Homo sapiens: one gene and its partner. The protein of the gene in region 1 interacts with the protein of each later gene in a biochemical or structural test. Each region holds a gene or a part of one and is shown in the gene's direction. Other genes may lie near its edges.

Region 1 (10,678 bases):
TAATTCAGGAGTTCAGGAAGAGGAAGTTTCCGTAGAGGAAAAATTCAACTGGGGTGAAATTTGGAATGGGTTGGGGACGGTGTGGCTAAGAAAGAGGAGAGGTGGGCAGAAGAATTGGGATGGGGCTGTGTCCAGGACAGGAAGTAGACCTGTGAACTGATGCTGAGTGCAGTGGTGGTGGGCATTACAAGCAGGATAAGGAAAAATCACAGAGGGTCCTAAGTGCAAAGCAAAGGAGTATAGGCTGTGAAAATTTGTGAACAAAGAGAGACTGAAGGAGGCCCTGGAGAAGAAACAACGAGGCTGTAACTGTGGGATTCAGAACTCCTGCCTCTGAACTCCAACTTCCCCTAGAGGTAGGAATTATGCCAACTAAGCTGGGATAAGCTCACACTGCACGGGAGTTTGCAGCTTGCAGAAAAGTCCAGAAATGAGTACTCTGTTACAGGGCCAGGACTAGGGCGAGAGCAGTGAGGCATACTACTGAGGTGCAAAATGTCAGGGAGTGTCCAAAAATGCAGTAATCAAGATAAATAATACTTGAATGCAATGTTTTAAAATGAAAAGTTAATGCAAAAAACACATGGTGAGCAAAATGTCACGTTTTAAAAATAAATATGGGATCAGGCAGTCGCTCGCGCCTGCAATCCCAGCACTTTGGGAGGCCGAGGCGGGCGGATCACCTGAGGTCAGGAGTTTGAGAACAGCCTGGCCAACATGGTGAAACCCCGTCTCTACTAAAAATACAAAAATTAGCCAGGCGTGGTGGCGGGTGCCTGTAATCCCAGCTACTCAGGAGGCTGAGACGAGAGAATTGCTTGAACCTGGGAGGCGGAGGTTGCAATGAGCCGAGATAGCACCATTGTACTACAGCCTGGGCAACAAGAGTGAAACTCCGTCTCGAAAATAAATAAATAAATAATCGACCTTTGGACTTGCACAGCATAACCTCGCTGCTTCACCCTGATCCTGGCTGTGATGAAACACCAGCTTCTGGACTTTTCTGCAGGTCTCCACACTTTTCTTGGCTGTGGGTGCAGCATCTCCAGGGTTTGGCCAAAGGGGTGGTGTTCTCCATGTTCTCTGGCTTTCCAGGGGACAAACAGTGCCTTCTCATTCAGTCAATGGACATTTTTCAGGCTGGAATTCTCTGACCCACAGCCAAGGGAAGTAATCAAGGTGGCTAGGCAGGATGTCTCCTGGCCAACAGAACTAACAAGAGTTCAAATTCACATTACAAGGCAGCTGAAGCTCCTTTGGTGGCTGAACCTCCTTGATGCGGACTTACACCCCTACTGTATTCGTTACCTTTTCCACTCTACAAACTTTGGTCACTCATCCCTGCATCCATTCATCCCTCCTTCCACCCATCCATCCAACAATACAGCTGTTGGTCCATCTTGCCATGGACAGAGCCGTCTATCCAGCCATCCCTTCTTCTATTCATTCATCCACACATGCATCCAAACACATAGCCAGGCACCCAACCACTGAGCCAATCCCCTACCGACCTACCATATAAAATCAGCCTGTGGATGTGGAAGGAGTCCCACCTCTTACCAGCAGGCCTACTTAACTTCTCCAAGTCTCAATCTCTTCATCTGAAAATTGAGTATGTGTATGCTCATAAGGGCCTTCACAGGGTTGTTATGAGCAGTAAATAACAAAACCCATGTGAATGGTGGCTATTATATTACCATGGTAAGAAAATGAATGTGGCAAAAGGCCCAGCTTGTCTGCTACAATGTTGGCTCTAACAGGTGATCTGGAAAACCAGTCAAACCTGTAGTTAACAGTTGTGGGGGGTGGGGGAGGGGGGTGATAAAGTTGTGTTATCCTTTTTGTTATCCCCAGATTCAGCTTAAGGAAAAGAATAAATGGATGTGGGGCAGGTAACAATGACTAGAACATTCATGCAGGAGGCATTCTGCATGCAGGCAGTGACTGCAGATTCCAGGACCTGTGGTTAGCGGACTCCTATTGATGTTTCTGGGAACTCTAGACCTGGAAGTTCAGGTAGGTAGGCAAGCCTCAGGACTCATCGTCATCACTTGTTCCCATGGGGCAAATGCTTTAGTGGAGAACTCTGGACTCAGGTAGCCAGGGGTTCATAGCAGGGGTTCAAATCCCACTCTTACTTACTTGTGTGGCCTTAGACAATGTACGTAAGTGCCTCAATTACCCCATCCGTACAATGGGGATTAAGAAGTGAAGATTCTGCTGATACGGTGGCTCAGGCCTATAATCCTAGCACTTTGGGAGGCCGAGGCAGGTGGGTTGCCGGAGCTCAGGAGTTTGAGACCCGCCTGGGCACCATGGAGAAACCCTGTCTCCACTAAGATACAAAAAATTAGCTGGGCGTGGTGGTGGGCACCTGTAATCCCAGCCACTTAGGAGGCTGAAGCAGGAGAATTGCTTGAACTGGGGAGGCGGAGGTTGCAGTGAGCCGAGATCGTGCCATTGCACTCCAGCCTGGGCGACAGAGCGAGACTCTGTCTCCAAAAAAACTAAATAAAAATAAAATAAAAGGTGAAGAGTCACAAAGTTTATTTGTGTGAGGCACTTGGAGCAGGGTCCAACACATCCCCACAAGAGGTCATGACTCTGACCATGGATAGGCCTGTTCTTTGCCCTTGGCCTCTCAGCCCCCATATGCACCAGACCTTCAGACCAATGAGGCACCTGCCAGTTTGGGTGTTTCATCTGGTGTATTGGTTTCTTCCTATTGTTGTGTTCTAATTACCACAAACTTAGAGGCTTATAATAGCACAAATGTACTCTACGGAAGTTCTGTAAGTCAGAAGTCCATGTGGACTTGGTTGGTTCCCTGGAGGGTCTGGGGGAGAATCTGCTTCCAAGCTCATTCAGAGGGCTGGCAGAATGCAGTTCCATGCTGGTGAAGGGCTGAGGTCCTGGTTTCCTTGCTGGCTGTCACTACGGCCAGCTTCTATAGGTTGCCTGTGTACCTTGGCTTTGGCCCTCTTCAAAGCCAGCAGTGGCAGATAGAGTCCTTCTCATGATTCAGCGCTCTCTGACCCCACCTGCCTCATCCCCCCTCTGACTTCTCCAACCTCTCCTTCTGCCCCCTCTCTCCGACTCTTCTCCTATGCTCTTCTGCTTCTAAAGGCCCACATGATTCCACAGGGCCCCTCGGATAACCCAGGATAATCCTATTTAAAGTCAGCTGATTCAAACGTTGATTCCATCCGCAAAGTCCTCCATGGCAGTCGCTAGATTGTGCTTGAGTGAATAGGAAGCTTTCGAGTTCTGCCTACCAGCCCTGTCCAGCCAAGACTGTGCCAGCAGCTGCAGTCCTCAGCCTCATTTCTGTAGAGGTGTAGAGGACTGGAACCACGGAGAAGCCCTCCAGCCAGCTGGAGCCAGAGGGTCAGACAAACTCACCATGAAAAGTGTGTGCAGGTAGCAAAGGATAAAAAGCACACAACGGAGCATCAGAAAAGCCCATGCATGGGGGGAGTCTCTATTCTGGTGCCATGCTCAGGGCCAGGTATTTTACCTATAATTATATTTAAACTGCATGACCGTATCTAACTACCCTGGAAAGCAGGGATACTTGCTCCATTTTACAGATGAGGAAACTGAGGCTGGTGGGGGGGAGGCGGGGGGGAACCATTTGCTTAGGTCACACAGTGAATCTGTAGTAGGGCTAGAACCAAACATTGGTCTCCAATTAACCAGGTCAGTGCCCTCCACATCTCAGCACCCAGGGGCCCTGGCCTGCTGGAACGATCCACAAAGGAGGGTCACCAGGGACCTAGCGCAGGAGGCAGCTCTGGGGCCTGAGGTCTAGCATGCAGAGCTTTCAATTCTGACATCCTCCAAGTGGCTGGGATGGGCAGAGGGGTGAAGCATTCCAGGTACACATGAAGGGCAGGACATCTGCCTAGAAGGACACCTTTATCCCAAGGCCAGCGACTTCTGTTCCAAATAGTAACCGAGCAGGGTCTTTTCTGAGACATATGCCTCAAAGCACAGAGAGACTGGTCACACCCAGAGAGGGGCATCCAGACAGAGATGGAGTCACAACCTAAGGAAGATCTGCTTTATCTGAAAAAAGGTGCCTGCTGGAGCTCACCCTGGTTCCATGGAGATTCCATGTCCACATGCCACACTGGCCACAGGAGAGGAGAGAGACTGTGGGGGAGGCTCTTTAAATGCAGATTTCTGAGCCCTACCCAGACCCAGTAGGTCATATCCCAGGAAAGAAGTCCAGGAATCTGCTTCCCCAGGTGCCTGAGACACAGAGTCTGGGCTAGAACATCAGGGGATGAAACACCAGTCGGAGGGAGGCCACGAGAGAGCTCAGATCTGGCTCTACTCACAGGTTGGAAAGATGCATTTTTAAAAAGAGAGGGAAGGGCACAGAGGCTCACATCTCTAATCCTAGCACTCTGGGAGGCTGAGGCAGGAGGATCACTTGAGCCCAGGAGTTTGAGACCCCATCTCTACTAAAAATACAAAAAAACTAGCTGGGCGTGATGGTACGAGCCTGTGGTCCCAGCTACTCAAAAGGCTGATGTGGGAGGATCTCCTGAGCCTGGGAGGCCAAGGCTGCAGTGAACTGTGATGATGCCACTGAACTCCAACCTGGGTGGCAAGAGAGCCAGGCCCTGTCTCAAAATAAATAAATAAAAATTTAAAAATGAAGAGACAGAGAAAGAGCAAGCCCAGAGCAGAGAGCACTGCAGTAGGTCAAGGCTGGGTTCAGACACTCTCTGCGCACAGACTGGGAAAGTTACCATCTACTCTTGTGGCCTCAGTTTCCTCATCTGTAAAATGGGGGGTCAACAACATGCCACTTTGCAAGGTGATGATGTAAGTGAAGAACAGGGCATCACTGGGCATTTGAGGCTACGGCACAGGCTGGTCTGAATCACCCTCTCCTCACCCAAAGCAGTGACAGCACCGGCCTCCTCAGCCTGGAACGCACGTTCTTCTGTCTGTCTCACACCCAGACCCTTACATACCATCTTCTTTAGCTTTGCAAACTACAGAGAATGGCCCTACAGCTCTTAATGTAGCTTCCTCAGCAGAAAGACTAAAATGTCTGTTGAGGGGGCAAAACAATTCACAAGGAGGTCGTCTAGCTTCTTCAGTTGTAAGTCCACTCCAAGCAAAAGGGAAGCCAGGGAAATGTGGTTAACCAGGGCAGGGAGACGTGGGGAGTGTGGGGGAAAGTCTGAGGTGGAGACACACAGGGACATGGGGGGTATGAGGTGGGGACAGGCAGGGAGATGGGGGTGCAAGGTGGAGACACGCAGGGACATGAGGGGGTGTGAGGTGGGGACAGGCAGGAAGATGGGAGGTGCAAGGCGGGGACAGGCAGGGACATAGGGGTGTGAGGTGGGGAAATGCAGGAAGATGGGGGGATGTGAGGTGGGGACTGGCAGGGATATGGGGGTGTGAGGTGGGGACAGGCAGAGACATGGGGGTGTGAGGTGGGGACAGGCAGGGACATAGGGGTATGGTGGGGATAGGCAGGGAGATGGGGGGTGCGAGGTGGGGACAGGAAGGGACATAAGGCTGTGAGGTGGAGACAGGCAGGGACATGGGGGGTGTGAGGTGGGGACAGGCAGGGAGATGGGGGGTGCGAGGTGGGGACAAGCAGGGACATGGGGAGTGCGAGGTGGGGACAGGCAGGGACGTGGGGCGTGCGAGGTGGGGACAGGCAGGGACATAAGGGTGTGAGGTGGAGACAGGCAGGGACATGGGGAGTCTGAGGTGGGGACAGGCAGGGAGATGGGGGGTGTGAGTTGGGGACAGGCAGGGAGATGGGGGGGTGCGAGGTGGGGATAAGCAGGGACATGGGGGTGCGAGGTGGGGACAGGCAGGGACATGGGGGTGGGAGGTGGGGACAGGCAGGGACATAGGGGGTGGGAGGTGGGCACATTCAGGGAGATGGGGGTGTGAGGTGGAGACAGGCAGGGACATAGGGGGAGCGAGGTGGGGACAGGCAGGGAGATGGAGGGTGCAAGGTGAAGACAGGCAGGGACATGGTGTGAGGTGGGGACAGGAAGGGACATGAGGGGTGCGAGTTGGGGATAGGCAGGGAGATGGGGGGGTGCGAGGTGGGGACACGCAGGGAGATGGGGGACGTGGGGATGGCGACAGGCTGGGAGAGGGAGAGGCCAGGCTGAGACCTCCCCGCGCGGTGCCAGCCAGTCCAGGCAGATCCAGGACTCAGCCAGGCCTGATACCCAGATAAGCCCTTCCTCCCAGAGGAGATAAGGGAGCGACGCGGCCGGCCGACAGGTGAACTAGAGCTGGCGAGTTAGTCGGCGCCGCCCCCTCCCGCGAGCCCGGCCTCGGGGGAGTACCGCCCACCCCGCCCCGCGCTCGCTCCGCCCCGCGCTCGCTCCGCCCCTTCGCGCTCCCGCCGCTCCTCCACGCTCGTGCCGCTCCCCCCCCGCGCTCCCAGTTGACGCTCTGGGCCGCCACCTCCGCGGACCCTGAGCGCAAGAGCCAAGCCGCCAGCGCTGCGATGTGGGCCACGCTGCCGCTGCTCTGCGCCGGGGCCTGGCTCCTGGGAGTCCCCGTCTGCGGTGCCGCCGAACTGTGCGTGAACTCCTTAGGTACGCAGAGGGCGCGCCGCCCGAGAGGGTGCTAGCAGGCCCTAGAGTGGACGCTGGGAGAACTTGGCCAGGGGCGCACTGGGCTCCGGAGGAACGGGGCAGAGCTTTCCCCGGTGAGAGGCCAGGAACTCTGCGTGCTGGCACGGGGAGGGGTAAACTGCATTATAGGCGGGGGTTCTCGGAGGGTGGGCGGCTTGTAGGACCAGAGGAGCAGATGGGCTGAGTGTCCAGGGTCCCACCTAGCCAGGTGGCTCTCCAGCCTAGAATACCAAAGGAGCCCGCAGCTCCTTCCGCCTTCCTCAACTGGGGACACAGAGTGTCACACAGAGGACTCTGATCTGTCCCTGCCAGAGGTGAGCAAGGACGTCCCAGCCTTCTCTAGCAGCTTCCCCCGGGACTTGGCACACAGGGGATCCCCGTAGTGTCTTGGGAGTCCCATCTGTAGAGTAGGTTGGACGGGCTGTTTGGAACAGTGAATCCCTGTGCAACGGCACCAGGGAAAGCACTCAGACCAACAGCGCTTTTAACAGCACCCCAGGGCCCATGGCGTCAGGTGGAGCCCCAGGACTCCTCTTGTTGGCCAGATTGGCTGCGACTGGTCCAGCTTCGTGCTGCCCTTGCATCCTGTCTACTGCCCGGGCTCAGGCACCTCCCCTGGCTGAAGGCAAGGAGCCTGCTCTTCCCTACTGCCTCCCTCCTTTCCTACTGTCCCTGGTCCCAGCCTCAGCCCACAGGCTCTGAACTTAAAGACCACCTGCCCCCTTCACCGAGAAAAGTAGCCAAGAAACAACCCAAGGAGCCAAGAACCTAGGGAGGGGGGGTGCCCTGAGCTCTGGAGGAACGGGACAGGGCTTTCCCCCAGCTAGAGGCTCAGGGGATGGGACAGAGATCACTGAGGCTGAATCTGGGCCAGAGGGTTGCCTCATTCCTTCCCACCTATTTATTTAAAAAGCTCCCCAGCCTTGCAAACCTCAGTGGGCGCCCAGCTCCAGGTCAGTTCCCGCCTAAGGAAAACCTAGCTGCCGCAAGCGAGGGCTGCCTGGAGAAGGCTGGCGCTGAGAGGCTGTCTGAATTCCAGAGCAGGGCTTGGCAAACTTTTTCTGTGAAAGACCAGACGGTAAATAACTTAGGCTTTATGGTGGTCTCTGTAGCAACTACTAACTCTGCCATGGTAGTGTGATAGCAACCATAGATTGTATGTAAGTGAGTCAGTGTAACTGGGTTCTAATAAATGATTTTTATGGCCACTGAAATTTCAGTTTCAAGGGATTTTTGGGTGCTACGAAATATGTTTCTTCTAACCATTTAAAATTGTAAGAAACCGTTTGTAGCCCAGGAGCTGTACTAAAACAGGAGTCAGGGACCGGCTGCGGTGGCTCACACCTGTAATCTCAGCAATTTGGGAGACCGAGGCAGTCGGATCACTTTAGGTCAGGAGTTCGAGAGCAGCCTGGCCAACATGGTGAAACCCTGTCTCTACTAAAAATACAAAAATTAGCTGGGTGTGGTAGCCAGGTGCCTGTAATCCCAGGTACTCAGGAGGCTGGGGCAGGAGAATCGCTTGAAACTGAGAGGTGGCGATCACTCCAGCCTGGGTGACAGAGTAAGACTCCATCTAAAACAAACAAACAAACAAACAGGGGAATACTGTACTTTCCTGAAACCTGCTGTAAATCCAGGCAAGGTATTATGGCACTTTTAAAGTCCTGACTAGATTGGAATGGATCTATTTTAGGGTAAGGCACGGTTCACCAGCAGATTATTCTGGCCCCAGAATAATCTCTCCAGAGGCAAACTGGTAGTCAATTGTCCTAAACTCAAACCCTGCCTCCAACTCTTGTCCTGAGTTGAGGTCTGTCTTCCTCTAAAGCCCTCAGCTGCAGCAGGGCCCTTAATCAAGATCTGGAATCCCCTGAAACCCTAAAGGGAGCCATGTTGAGGAAATGTGCATTTTCCCCAGGGAAAACGGCCATAGATTGGTCTCTGGAACAGGTTCGAGACCCAAAAACGGAGATCTAAATGCTGTGTGGTAGTGATCTTCACACTGGAGGTATGGATCCTTGGGGAAACAGGAAGATATTTCAAGTGATGCCGGCAGAGAGTGTTCTGGAAATCCATTTACAGACCTTTTATTTCCAAGTGTCCTCTTTGCTAAAACTGGGAGAGAGCCCCTGAAGGCAAGGGGGAACCTCTTTCCTCTCATTCAATCTGAACCTGAACCCATGGGTATAAAAACAATAGGGACAGCAAACAAAAAGACAAAACGGTAATAAATCGTTCATATCTGGCATTCTCAATTCCTCAAGGAAACTGAATTGAAGAGGAGAGGACTTCATGGGGATATCAACTGATGAGGTCTTAAAAATAATGTTGAGTGAGGCCAGGCGTGGGGGCTCACGCCTGTGATCCCAGCACTTTGGTAGGCCAAGGTGGGTGGATCACCTGAGGTCAGAAGTTTCAGACCAGATTGGCTAACATGGTGAAACCCCATCTCTACTAAAAATATAAAAATTAGCCGGGCGTGGTGGTGGGCACCTGTAATCCCAGCTACTTGGGAGGCTGAGATAGAATTGCTTGAACCAGGGAGGTGGAGGTTGCAGTGAGCTGATATCGTGCCACTGCCCTCCAGCCTGGGCAACAGAGCCAGCCTCCTTCTCAAAAAAAAAAAAAAAAAAGAAGGAAAGAAAGGGAGGGAGGGAGGGCTGAGTGATAGAGCACCATGGGATTGGATGCACAGAAAGGAGTGCGAAGAATTAAGTGGCATTGCTCTTAAAAACTGCCTCCATTCCCAGCTGCTTATTTGAGCAGGGTTTCCCAGCCCTTTGACCTATAAGAAACAAAAATAAGACCAGAATTAATGCTGAACCTTTTCTCAACCAAACAATATTCACTCATGAAAATATAAATCCATTGCGGGGGATGGGCAGTAGAGTACTGTTTATCACATTAAGAGATGCATTTCTGATACAATTTTACTTTTGATGTTTAACAATTACTTTTCATAATGTATAATACATTTGAAATGTTTTAATCAGTTGGGACACTAATAATAATTATGATTACTCAATCCAGAATAAATTTTTTTTTTTTTTTTTGAGACGGAGTCTCATTCTGTCGCCCAGGCTGGAGTGCAGTGGCGTGATCTCGGCTCACTGCAAGCCCCGCCTCCCGGGTTCACGCCATTCTCCTGCCTCAGCCTCCTGAGTAGCTGGGACTGCAGGCGCCCGCCACCACGCCCGGCTAATTTGTTTTTTGTATTTTTAGTAGAGTTGGGGTTTCACCGTGTTAGCCAGGATGGTCTCGATCTTCTGAACTCGTGATCCGCCCGTCTCAGCCTCTCAAAGTGCTGGGATTACAGGCATGAGCCACCGCGCCCAGCTCCAGAATAAATTTTTATAATATTCACAGATGTATGGGTCACAGGTAGTAAAAACATTTAATTTTTTTTTTTTTTTTTTTTTTTTTTTTAGACAGAGTCTCGCTTTGTCGCCCAGGCTGGAGTGCAGTGGCACGATCTTGGCTACTGCAACCTCTGCCTCCCAGGTTCAAGCAATTCTTCTGCCTCAGCCTCCCAAGTAGCTGGGACTACAGGTGCATGCCACCACGTCTGGCTTATTTTTGTATTTTTAGTAGAGATGAGGTTTCACCATGTTGGCCAGGCTGGTCTCAAACTCCTGACCTCATGATCCACCTGCCTCAGCCTCCCAAAGTGCTGGGATTACAGGCATGAGCCACGGCGCCCAGCCAAAATAAATAATTTAAATTTAAACTTTTTGTTGTTGTTGCAGAAAAGAATGTGAAGGTGATCAAGCATAAAAATGTATGTTCCCTTAGGATAAAATTCTGCCAGGTGGGGATGGAGATAGGTGTTCAACAAGAAAAAGAAACTCTGTATAATATCTGACTCTTTTTTGTTTTGTTTTCTTTATTTGAGATGGAGTTTCGCTCTTGTCACCCAGGCTGGGGTGCAGTGGCACAATCTCGGCTCACAGCAGCCTCCGCCTCTCAGGTTCAAGCGATCCTCCTGCCTCAGCCTCCTGAGTAGCTGGGATTACAGGCGCCTGCCACCATGCCCAGCTAATTTT
Region 2 (10,900 bases), on another chromosome or scaffold:
TTTAATAGAGACGGGGTTCCATCATGTTGGCCAGGCTGGTCTCGAACTCCTGACCTAACGTGATCCACCTGCTTTGGCCTCCCAAACTGCTGGGATTGTAGGTGTGAGCCATCACGCCCAGCCGACAAGCAGGTTTTTAAAGACAAAAGGGGGACAAGGAGCAGGCTGATACAAAATTGTCTATCAGGAATTCTCATTGGTTTACAGAAATAATATTGATTAGTGATTGGCTATACATTGTATGGGATTACGGTGTCCTGTGTGCAGCATCCTTAGGTTCACTTACAGCTACTTGTGGTGAGAGGAAGCAGTCTCCAGAGATGGTGACACAGCTCTAGGAGAAACAGCATGTGATTACTGTCTCATTTTAATTTCTCTCTGGGCCTGATAACTTAAAAGGGTTCGCTTTCAGCCGGGCCTGGTGGCTCACTCCTGTAATCCCAGCACTTTGGGAGGCCAAGGCAGGCAGATCCCGAGGTCAGGAGATCGAGACCATTCTGGCCAACATGGTGAAACCCTGTCTCTACTAAAAATACAAAAAAAATTAGCCGGGCATGGTGGCGGGTGCCTGTAGTCTCAGCTACTTGGGAGGCTGAAGCAGAAGAATGGTGTCAACCCAGGAGGAGGAGCTTGCAGTGAGCCAAGATCGCACCACTGCACTCCAGCCTGGTGACAAGAGCGAGACTCCATCTCAAAAAAAAAAAGGGTTCATTTTCCTCAGATAAGAAATATTCATAATTTTTTTCTTTCTCATTCTCTAAGTGGGGAGACAAGGTATTTGGTCTTGTCCCCTTGCCTTCAGTAAATGAAAAACTCTGGCATCAAAGAATGGGAGGTAAAAGTCAGCATGGTTGGGCGTGATGGCTCATGCCTGTAATCCCAGCACTTTGGGAGGCCAAGGTGGGACCGCCCAACAGGTTCTTCCTGCCTGCTGTACAAAGGCCACGGCACTGAAGAAAAGAAAGTTAATTGTCAGGCACGGTGGCTCACACCTATAATCCCAGCACTTTGGGAAGCCAAGGGGGGTGAATCACCTGAGGTCAGGAGTTTTGAGACCAGCCTGGCCAACATGGTGAAACCTCGTCTCTACTAAAAATACAAAAATTAGCCAGGCATGGGGATGCATGCCTATAATCACACTTACTTGGGAGGCTGAGGCAGGAGAATCGCTTGAACCCGGGAGGCAGAGGTTGCAGTGAGCCAAGATTGCACCACTGCACTCCAGCCTGGGCGACAGAGGGAGACTCTGTCTCAAAAAAAAAAAAAGTGAATTGATGTGAGGCTGGCCTGGCCATGCCACAAGGGAGATGGAGTAATTATTCAAATCAACCTCATTGCAGGCCTGTGGGTTAGGGTTTTTCAAAAGTGGTTTGGGGGAAGGGGTTGGTGTGGCTGGGCAATGGGTGCTTGCTGCTGACCGAGTGGGTCGGAGATGACATCATGGGAAGATGTCCTTTTGCACTGAGTTGCTTCTGGGAGGGGCCACAGGAGCCATGGTCAGTGGGTCCAGGTAGAGCCATGGGTGTCAGACATGCCCAAAACCTGCAAAAGTATCTCAAAAGGCCAGTCTACAATAGCGACATTAACTGCAGGACTAACTGGGGAGGTTGCTGTCCTGTGACCTCCAGAATAATGGCTGGCAATTGTTTGTCTACACCTTAGCTGAACCCAGGCTCCTCTCCTTCTCCTAGCCTAGTCTCTCATGAGCTTTGCAAAGGTGGTTGAGTTTTGGGGAAGGGCCAGTATCATCTAAACTGTAAACTAAATGTCTGCCAAAGTTAGCTCAGCCTAAACCCAGGAATAATCAAGGCAGCTTAAAAGCTAAAGGCCAGAGCCGGGTCAGCTGGTTCAGATCTCTCCCACTGCCACCATTTTCTCATGGATACAATTTTTGCAAAGGTGGTTTCAGAGGTGGGAGGATCACTTGGGCCCAGGATTTCAAGATTAGCCTGGGCAACATAGTGAGACTTCCAGCTCTACAAAAAATGAAAAAAATTAGCCAGGCATGGTGGTGCACACCTGTGGCCCCAGCTACTCAGGAGGCTGAGGTGGGAAGATTGCTTGAGCCTGGGAGGTCAGGCTGCAGTGAGCTGTGATCGTGCCACCGAACTCCAGTGTGGGCAACAGAATCAGACCATGTCTCAAAAAAATAAATAAATAAAATAAAAAATTCCAGGGCTTTTGATTGGAAAAGTAATACAAATTCTAGGTTGGCTTTGATTAGCATACCAATAATAACAATACTGACAACTCACCCTGGAGCTCAGACACTGTCCCAAGCTTTTTGTACTTAATTACTAATTCACTTAGTCCTTTAAAAAAAAATTTGAGATTGGTTATTAGCATTATCCCCACAGAGAGAGGCACAGAGAGTTTCAGCAATTAGTCCTTCACCACACAGCAGGTGCGAAGAAGGGCTGGGTCCACACTCAGGCAGCTGGGCTCCAGCACCTGCCCTCCAAGATGGTTTGAAAACATCTGCTTGCACCCACACCTGCAGCACGAAGGCAGCTTTGACATTGCGAGACAATGAACACACAAACAGAAAACAGCCAGACCAAATATGGGAAGAGAACTCTGAGCCACAGCGACTGTCCAGAGGCCAAACCTCAACTTTCACGGCTAGCCAGAAGCTTTCTGCCCAGGTTCTGTACATTTATTATATATTATATATTATATTTATTATATATTTATTATAACTAAGCATTCAGCAGAAATAGAGTTACAGGCCGGGTGTGGTGGCTCATGCCTGTAATCCCAACACTTTGGGAGGCCGAGGCAGGTGGATCACCTGAGGTCAGGAGTTCAAGACCAGCCTGGCTAACATGGTGAAACCCCGTCTCTATACAAAAATTAGCTGGGCTTGGTGGCACGCACCTGTAATCCCAGCTAATCGGGAGGCTGAGGCAGGAGAATCGCTTGAACCCGGGAGGCAGTGGTTGCAGCAGTGAGCCAAGATCATGGCACTGCACTCCATCCAGTCTGGATGACAGAGCGAGACTCTGAAGAAAGAAAGAGAGAAAGAGACAGAGAGAGAGAAAAAGAGAGAGAGAGAGGGAGGGAGGGAGGGGGGAGGGAGGAAGAGAAGGATAACTCAGCATTTGTCAGGCTACACTTTAACCCACTTCCTTCTAACTGAAAGTCACGTAGCGCTAGTGACTATCTGCACCCCTACTGTTCCTATGGACGGAATCTCTGACTTCAGAATCATGAGGCTTTTGTTTAAGAATTCCTTAAGACGTTTCAGATCCTTAATTCCAGGCCAACCAGTTTGAAGAGCCCCACAGAGGAAGTGAACCAGCATGAGAATACAGCATCTTCAACCCCACCCCATGACTCCACCCTGCTTCACCCTGCACTTCTCCACCGGTCAGCAGCCCCCGCCCTCAGCCCACTCCAAACCCCTGAAAGTTCCCAGCCCCAAACTCCTCAGGGAGATGGATTTGAGGTCTCCTCCCAGTTACAACCTTGCGGTTCAAACTGTCTGCTGCAAACCCTGGGTGGCAGTGTGCTGACTTCCTGCACCCTAGGCAACGGACCTGTCACGGTCACACTCCTAGTGAGCCCCTCTTCCGTCTCCCCAGGCCACAGCCTCCCTCAGGTGCACCTGAGCCTCCCCTTCCCATTCCAGGCTTTTCCCCGGCTCTGCCCCCGCCTGCTGAGGAATCTCGGTCAACACAAGAGAGGACGGCGACTCCCTTGTACAGCAAGTCCTGAATAAATCGTCTTTTGTTCTCATTTGCGTGGGCTTTATTTCCACAGCTGTTATCCTCCTATTTGTAAAACGGAGGCACCTGGGACCAGCTCCAGCAAGGAGAGTGAGGATCCGACTCCAGGAAGCACCTCAGGAACAAAGGCCTCAAGGCCAACACCTTCCACGGCACAAGCCCAACAGAGCTGCAGGAACCGTACAAGCAGCGGGAACATCCCTTTCTCTTCTTGACTATGTTTTCCCCTGATGCTTTGCTTTCCACATAGAAGAGTTTTCCATTTTCGTGGGGTCAACTCTGCCTTCACTCATTCAACAATGATGGGGGGCTCTGCCCCGCTCCCCCCAGGCTTCAACCACACCTGACTGCCCACCCCTTTGGGCCCTTCCCTGAAGTGACAGACCAGGCTGTGCCCTGGCAGGTAAGAGAAAGGACCCCACAACCCATTCATGGGCCGCTCCAGCTGGGGCCTTGCATGCAGGAGCGGACCAGTCCCCCTGAGGGACAGCCCTTGGGTGGGGGCTCTGGGTCATTTTGAGGAGTCAATCACACCAACAGGTGCCTAGCACAGGCCCCACCCCCACCCCAAATAAGGCAAGCGACCCTTCCCTTCCGCAGGTGGTCCAGTCTAACAGAAACCCTAAACCAAAGGGACTGTGTGGTGGCTCAAGCCTGTCATCCCAGCACTTTGGGGGATGGATCGATTTTAGCCTAGGAGTTCAAGACCAGCCTGGGCAATATAGTGAGACTCCATCTCTACAAAAACACTTTTTAAAAAAATTAGGGGTGCAGTGGTTTATGCCAATAATCCCAGCACTTTGGGAGGCCGAGGTGGACAGATCGCTCAGAAGTTCCAGACCAGCCTGGGTAACATGGTGAAACTCTCTGTCTCTATATATGTGTGTGGTAGGGTGGGCCTGTGGTCCCAGCTACTATAGCAGCTGAGGTGGGAAGATCGCTTGAGCCCAGGAGGTCCAGGCTGCAATGAGTTGTGATCAGGCCACTGCACCCCAGCCTGGCCAACAGAGCAAGACTCTGTCAAAAAAAAAAAAAAGAAAGAAAGAAAAGAGGTCAGGTACGGTGGCTCACGCCTGTAATTCCAGCACTTTGGGAGCCCGAGGCAGGTGGATCACGAGGTCAGGAGTTCGAGACCAGCCTGGCCAATATGGTGAAACCCCGTCTCTACTAAAAACACAAAAATTAGCTGCGCATGAAGGCGCGCGCCTGTAGTCCCAGCTACTCGGGAGGCCGAGGCAGGAGAATGGTGTGAACCCCGGAGGCGGAGCTTGCAGTGAGCCGAGATTGCGCCACTGCACTCCAGCCTAGGCGACAGATCCAGACTCCGTCTCAAAAAAAAAAAAAAAAAGGCCGGGCGCAGTGGCTCACACCTGTAATCCCAGCACTTTGGGAGGCCAAGGCGGGTGGATCACAAGGTCAGGAGATCGAGACCATCCTGGCTAACACAGTGAAACCCCGTCTCTACTAAAAATACAAAAATTAGCCAGGTGTGGTGGCGGGCGCCTGTAGTCCCAGCTACTCGGGAGGCTGAGGCAGGAGAATGGCGTGAACCCGGGAGGCGGAGCCTGCAGTAAGCCGAGATCGCGCCACTGCACTCCAGCCTGGGAGACAGAGCGAGACTCCGTCTCAAAAAAAAAAAAAAAAAAAAAAAAAGAAAAGAAAAGGAAAGAAAGAAAAGAAATCCTAAAACGCAAATTCCACCAGAGAACCCTGCCTTCTTCTCATCCCTCTGATCTACCCCCTGCCCCCACCCAGCCTGGAGCGCGTGGGCGCCGTCTCCCCCTCCCTGGGCCCCTCTGTCCACCCCCTTCAGCCTTCAGTGTTCTCGGTCACAAGCGGTGATGTCCACTGCAGCCCGCACACCTGCTCCCGCGGGGCCGGGACCCCTGACCCCTGACCCCTGCAGCGCTGCGCCCCGCCCTCCCTCGTGCGCGGCCCGGACCCCGCCACCCTGCAGGATTGCGCCTACTCCGACTGCCCCTTCCCTATCGTCCCACCCTGCGCGCCCAACCCACCGGCGACACCCGGCCGCGCCCCCGCCCCGGTCCGTGTGACTCGGCGCCCGGAAAGACGATACCAGCCCCGGGAGGGGGGCGCTCCCTCCCGACACCAGCGCTGGGCGCGGAGACCCAGCCTGCGGCGAGTGGTGGCCAGGTTCCCCGCCCCGCGCCCCGCCCCGCGCCCCGCCCCGCGCGTCCCTTCTTGCGGGGCCACCGCGACCCCGCAGGGGACTCCGAAGCCAAAGTGCCTCCTCCCCGCCCCTTGGTTCCGCCCGCGCGTCACGTGACCCCAGCGCCTACTTGGGCTGAGGAGCCGCCGCGTCCCCTCGCCGAGTCCCCTCGCCAGATTCCCTCCGTCGCCGCCAAGATGATGTGCGGGGCGCCCTCCGCCACGCAGCCGGCCACCGCCGAGACCCAGCACATCGCCGACCAGGTGGGTGGGCCGCGGGGACGGGGCCGGCCCGGAGTCCTGCCTTAGCCTCAGGGCGCGGCCGCGGCTCCTGGAGCGAAAGAAGCCGCTTTGGCCCCGCTGCGCACCCCTGGGCTGGCCCGGGCTGTGGCCGTGAGAGGCCTCCCTCCGCTCGGGCGCTGCGCGCGAGTGAGCAGCGGGGGGCCGCGCCTGGGGCGCCGCTGGGGAGACATTGGGCTCCGCTGAATACAGCAAGGGCGAGTGGGAATTGATAGCCCGGAGCAGGGTGCGGTCCCTGCATGGACAGTCTCTGAGAGGAAACCCCAGGGATGAGGCGCTTCTGGTTTCAGGCAGGCAGGGTGATCGGGCGTCGCCGGCGATGGCGCAGGTGAGCAGCCGGCTCCGATCTCCACGGTGATCCGATAGCAAGCGGGTGGGAAGGGTCTGGCTAAACTGACTTAGCCAGGCTTCTTGCTAAAAGTGGATTTTACAAGGAAGTGCGCAGGTGGCCTAGGCGCTTCAGGAGCCCGACTACAGTTTGGCCAAGCAAGAATCTTTGTCAATATCCTCATCTAGTTCGGGAAAAAAATCATGAGAGAGAGTGCAAGAGGTCCCCAGTGATAAGGCACATGGGTTAAAAACTTAAGTGTATCTGCATAAAAGGTCCACAGGTTTCTTTACATGCTTCCGATTCTAGCACTGTTTCAAACTGTAAGTCTAAATAAAAAGTTAAAACACAGAAAAACAAGATAAAAACCGGGCTGGGTTGCAGATGGCAACCTTCCCTGTGTCTCGGTTTCCTCGTCTGTAAAATGGACGTCCTGTTGCTCTGCGCCTGCCAGAAGATTCTGGAGGGGCTGAAATGAGCAGGTCATCTGTGCAAGAAGCCCCCTCCGGTGGAGCACAGGCCAGGCCCGCCTCGCTGTCATGGTTGGTGACCGACGGGATGCCCCAAGCAAGAACAGGTCCAGGCGATGCTGAGGCCTGTGTTTTTTTTTTTTGTTTTTGAGACTCAGTCTCACTCTTGCCCAGGGTGGAGTGCAGTGGCACAATCTCGGCCCACTGCAACCTCCGCTTCCCAGGTTCAAGGGATTCTCCTGCCTTAGCCTCCCGAGTAGCTGGGATTGCAGGTGCTCGCCACCACGCCCAGCTAATTTTTGTATTTTTAGTAGAAACGGGGTTTTGCCATTTGGCTAGGCTGGTCTCAAACTCCTGACCTCAAGTGATCCGCCCACCTCAGCCTCCCAAAGTTCTGGGATTACATCCTTGAGCCACCGTACCCAGCTGGAACTGTTTTTTTCTACTTTATTATTAGGCTGACAGTTTAAATGTCCCTTCAGTTGTAAGAGACAATTGTGTGAAGAGCCAGTGTCAGAATCGTGTGTGTGCTCACATGCGTGCAAGTTACTCTAGCAGGAGGGAATCCAAGAAGCCACTGAGACATCCTCATTCTGTCCCTTCTGTCTAGGTGAGGTCCCAGCTTGAAGAGAAAGAAAACAAGAAGTTCCCTGTGTTTAAGGCCGTGTCATTCAAGAGCCAGGTGGTCGCGGGGACAAACTACTTCATCAAGGTAGAGTGTGGGCCTCAGGAGGGCCTGCCCCGAACGGGTGCTGGTAGGAAACCGCCTGTGCAGGCCCGGGCTGTGTGGTCTTAGGTGCTGGGGCGCCCTGTGGCTGCCCCCTGAGATAAGCATCCTACTGTGTGTGTCCATCGGCCTTTCAGGAGGACTAGGGCTTCTGGGGAGCTAAGAACCCCAAGGAAACAAGTGTGGGATGTGAGGCATCCCCTGCACATGCAGGAGAAGACAAGATTGTCTTCAGCTGGCTGCTAATGACCTGGAGGGGCGCAGCAAGGTGACTTGGGATCAGAGGCTTCGCTCACTCCGCTCTCTTCCCAGGTGCACGTCGGCGACGAGGACTTCGTACACCTGCGAGTGTTCCAATCTCTCCCTCATGAAAACAAGCCCTTGACCTTATCTAACTACCAGACCAACAAAGCCAAGCATGATGAGCTGACCTATTTCTGATCCTGACTTTGGACAAGGCCCTTCAGCCAGAAGACTGACAAAGTCATCCTCCGTCTACCAGAGCGTGCACTTGTGATCCTAAAATAAGCTTCATCTCCGGGCTGTGCCCCTTGGGGTGGAAGGGGCAGGATTCTGCAGCTGCTTTTGCATTTCTCTTCCTAAATTTCATTGTGTTGATTTCTTTCCTTCCCAATAGGTGATCTTAATTACTTTCAGAATATTTTCAAAATAGATATATTTTTAAAATCCTTACAGATTGCCTCCTTTGTTTTAGACTTTTTTCTTCGTCTGAACCACCCCGGGCAGGTCCTTCCCCTCGGGGGCATGGAGGGCGGAGAGACTGCCTGGCTCACACAGCAAGCAGGTGGTGGACCCAGGATTCACACCTGCCCACTCCGGCCCGCGTTCCTAACCACCACTCTTTACATGTTGGTGCTTTGACTCTTAGGTCCTGGCCCCAAGCTTCAGTTTCTCCCATAAAATAAAAGAGTGTGAGTAAATCCAATTCCAGAGCATAACTGGCTCCAGATCTCAGATACATTCACGCACTTTATGCTCTGGTACGGAGAGGCAGCCACACAGTGTCGTGCACGTGCAGAATAGCCTGCAGCCTCACTGAGTGCCCTGTGGTGCGGGAGGCTTCCCATGGAGCCACGTGGGCTTCTAAAGGGAGGTATCTTAGGAGAGCGTGGCTGTTTTTAAAAACACCTTCTAGTTTTCAACAGGGATTACTTCCCATTCATGGAATTGGTCCGGTGCCTTCCCAACTGTGATTCTATGTTAAATAGGACAGAAGAGGGAGCATCATACATGATAAGAGCTAAGACTGGGGGTGAAAGTCTCTGTGCACCGGGGTCATGATGTGAACGTGTTCCTGAGGGTGTCCTGAGCTGCGCTTTGCCTCCGAGGCGTCCGGCAGCGTATGCCAGAACTGCAGCTGCAGGGTTCAGGCTGTCCAGATCGTGGGGGATCTGTGAAGACTAAGGAGGGATCTACCAGTGAGTCCACAGAGCTTTGAAAGTGATGTTAGGAAATTCTGAATCAGGCCGGGCGCGGTGGCTCACACCTAGAATCCCAACACTTTGGGAGGCCAAGGTGGGTGGATCACTCTGAGGTCAGGAGTTCTAGGCCAGCCTGACCCACATGGTGAAACCCTGTCTCTACTAATAATAAAAAAATTAGCTGGGCGTTGTGGCAGGCGCCTGTAATCCCAGCTACTTGGGAGGCTGAGACGGGAGGATCACTTGGACTCGGGAGGTGGTGGGTGCAGTGAGCCGAGATCGTACCTCTGCACTCCAGCCTGGGTGGGTGACAGAGTGAGATCCTATCTCAAAAAAAAACCAAAAAGAAAACTGAATCATGGACTGTGTGTATTCTACACTCTTAACATGAACTCTGAGACTAAGCTTTTATAACATGCAAAACAGAATCAAGCAGTTTTGCATTGAAAGGAAAACCCGTTGTATTTCCCACTTGAGAATTTCCAGCGGAAGGCAGGTGGGGGAGGGGCTGTTTAGGGGACCACGCAGCGGGAGAGCCATCCCCAACAGGAAGGGAGCGGTTGTCTGCAGGAGCAGTGACCAGGAACTCCTATGGGGCACCTGGGTTGGGGGAAGCTGGATTTAGGGTTAGAAGCTTGTGTGTAAACAGGAAATATCAGTGTAAAACAGAAAATAAAATATGTAATTAATGCTGTGGTCTGGTTTAAATACAAGTTGACAAAGGGATCAAAATTACAGGCTCACGCCTGTAATCCCAACACTTTGGGAGGCTGAGGTGGGTGGATCACTTGAGGTCAGGAGTTCCGGGACCAGCCTGACCAACATGGTGAAACCCCATCCCTACTGAAAAAAATAAAATAAAATACAAAAAACTAGCCAGGCAGGTGCCTGTAATCCCAGCTACTCAGGAGGCTGAGGCAAGAGAATAGCTTGAACCCAGGAGGCAGAGGAGGTTGCAGTGAGCCGAGATTGCACCACTACACTCCAGCCTGGGCAACAGAGTAAGACTCCGTTTCTCTCTCTCTCTCTATATATATATATAATTTATATGAAGTTGTCAATTTCATCCACACGCTGTCTGCTTCCTTAGGAGCATCAACAGCAGCAGCTTGGAAATCTGATGAATTTCACTACCCGCTGACAAAAGTCCCTTGTTACCGAACCCCCCGCTGGTTTAACCGAACCCCCCGCTGGTTTAACCCTGCCCTCTGAGAGTGCATTAGGAGCTCTGATATGGTGTGGCTGTGTCTCCACCCAAATTTCATCTTGAATTATAGCTCCCATAATCCCGTGTCATGGGAGGGACCTGGTGGGAGGTCATTGAATCATGGAGGTGGTTACCCTCATGCTGTTCTCGTGATAGTGAGTGAATCCTCATGAGATCTGATGGTTTCATAAGGGGCTTTCCCCGCTTTTGCTGGCACGTCTCCTTCCTGCCACCATGTGAAGAAGGATGTGTTTCCTTCCCCTTCTGCCATGATTGTGTTTCCTGAGGCCTCCCTAGCCATGCTGAACTGTGAGTCAATTAAACCTCTTTCCTTTATAAATTATCCAGTCATGGATATGTCTTTATTAGCAGCATGAGAATGGACTAATACAGGAGCTCAAAGTGGATGAGGCACGTAGTAGGGGAAGAATGAAGTCAGCTCGGACTCCCGTGGGGCTCACAGCATGGGGGCGGTGACTGTCACTGTCACGGATGTGAAATTGTACCAAGTGCCCTAAGGGAGGGTCCT

What was found.
Region 2: the proteins of CTSH (region 1) and CSTB form a complex in vitro, tested with the Homo sapiens proteins (one study listed by BioGRID).

What each region holds. Positions count from the first base shown.
Region 1 is NC_000015.10:78,940,806-78,951,483, reverse strand, and holds the start of CTSH (pro-cathepsin H isoform a preproprotein), read left to right. Parts: upstream 1-6,437; 5' UTR 6,438-6,502; coding exon 6,503-6,593; exon of another isoform or gene 6,594-6,706; intron 6,707-10,678. UniProt on the Homo sapiens protein: Important for the overall degradation of proteins in lysosomes.
Region 2 is NC_000021.9:43,771,465-43,782,364, reverse strand, and holds CSTB (cystatin-B), read left to right. Parts: upstream 1-6,056; 5' UTR 6,057-6,095; coding exon 6,096-6,161; intron 6,162-7,605; coding exon 7,606-7,707; intron 7,708-8,034; coding exon 8,035-8,163; 3' UTR 8,164-8,415; downstream 8,416-10,900. UniProt on the Homo sapiens protein: This is an intracellular thiol proteinase inhibitor. Tightly binding reversible inhibitor of cathepsins L, H and B.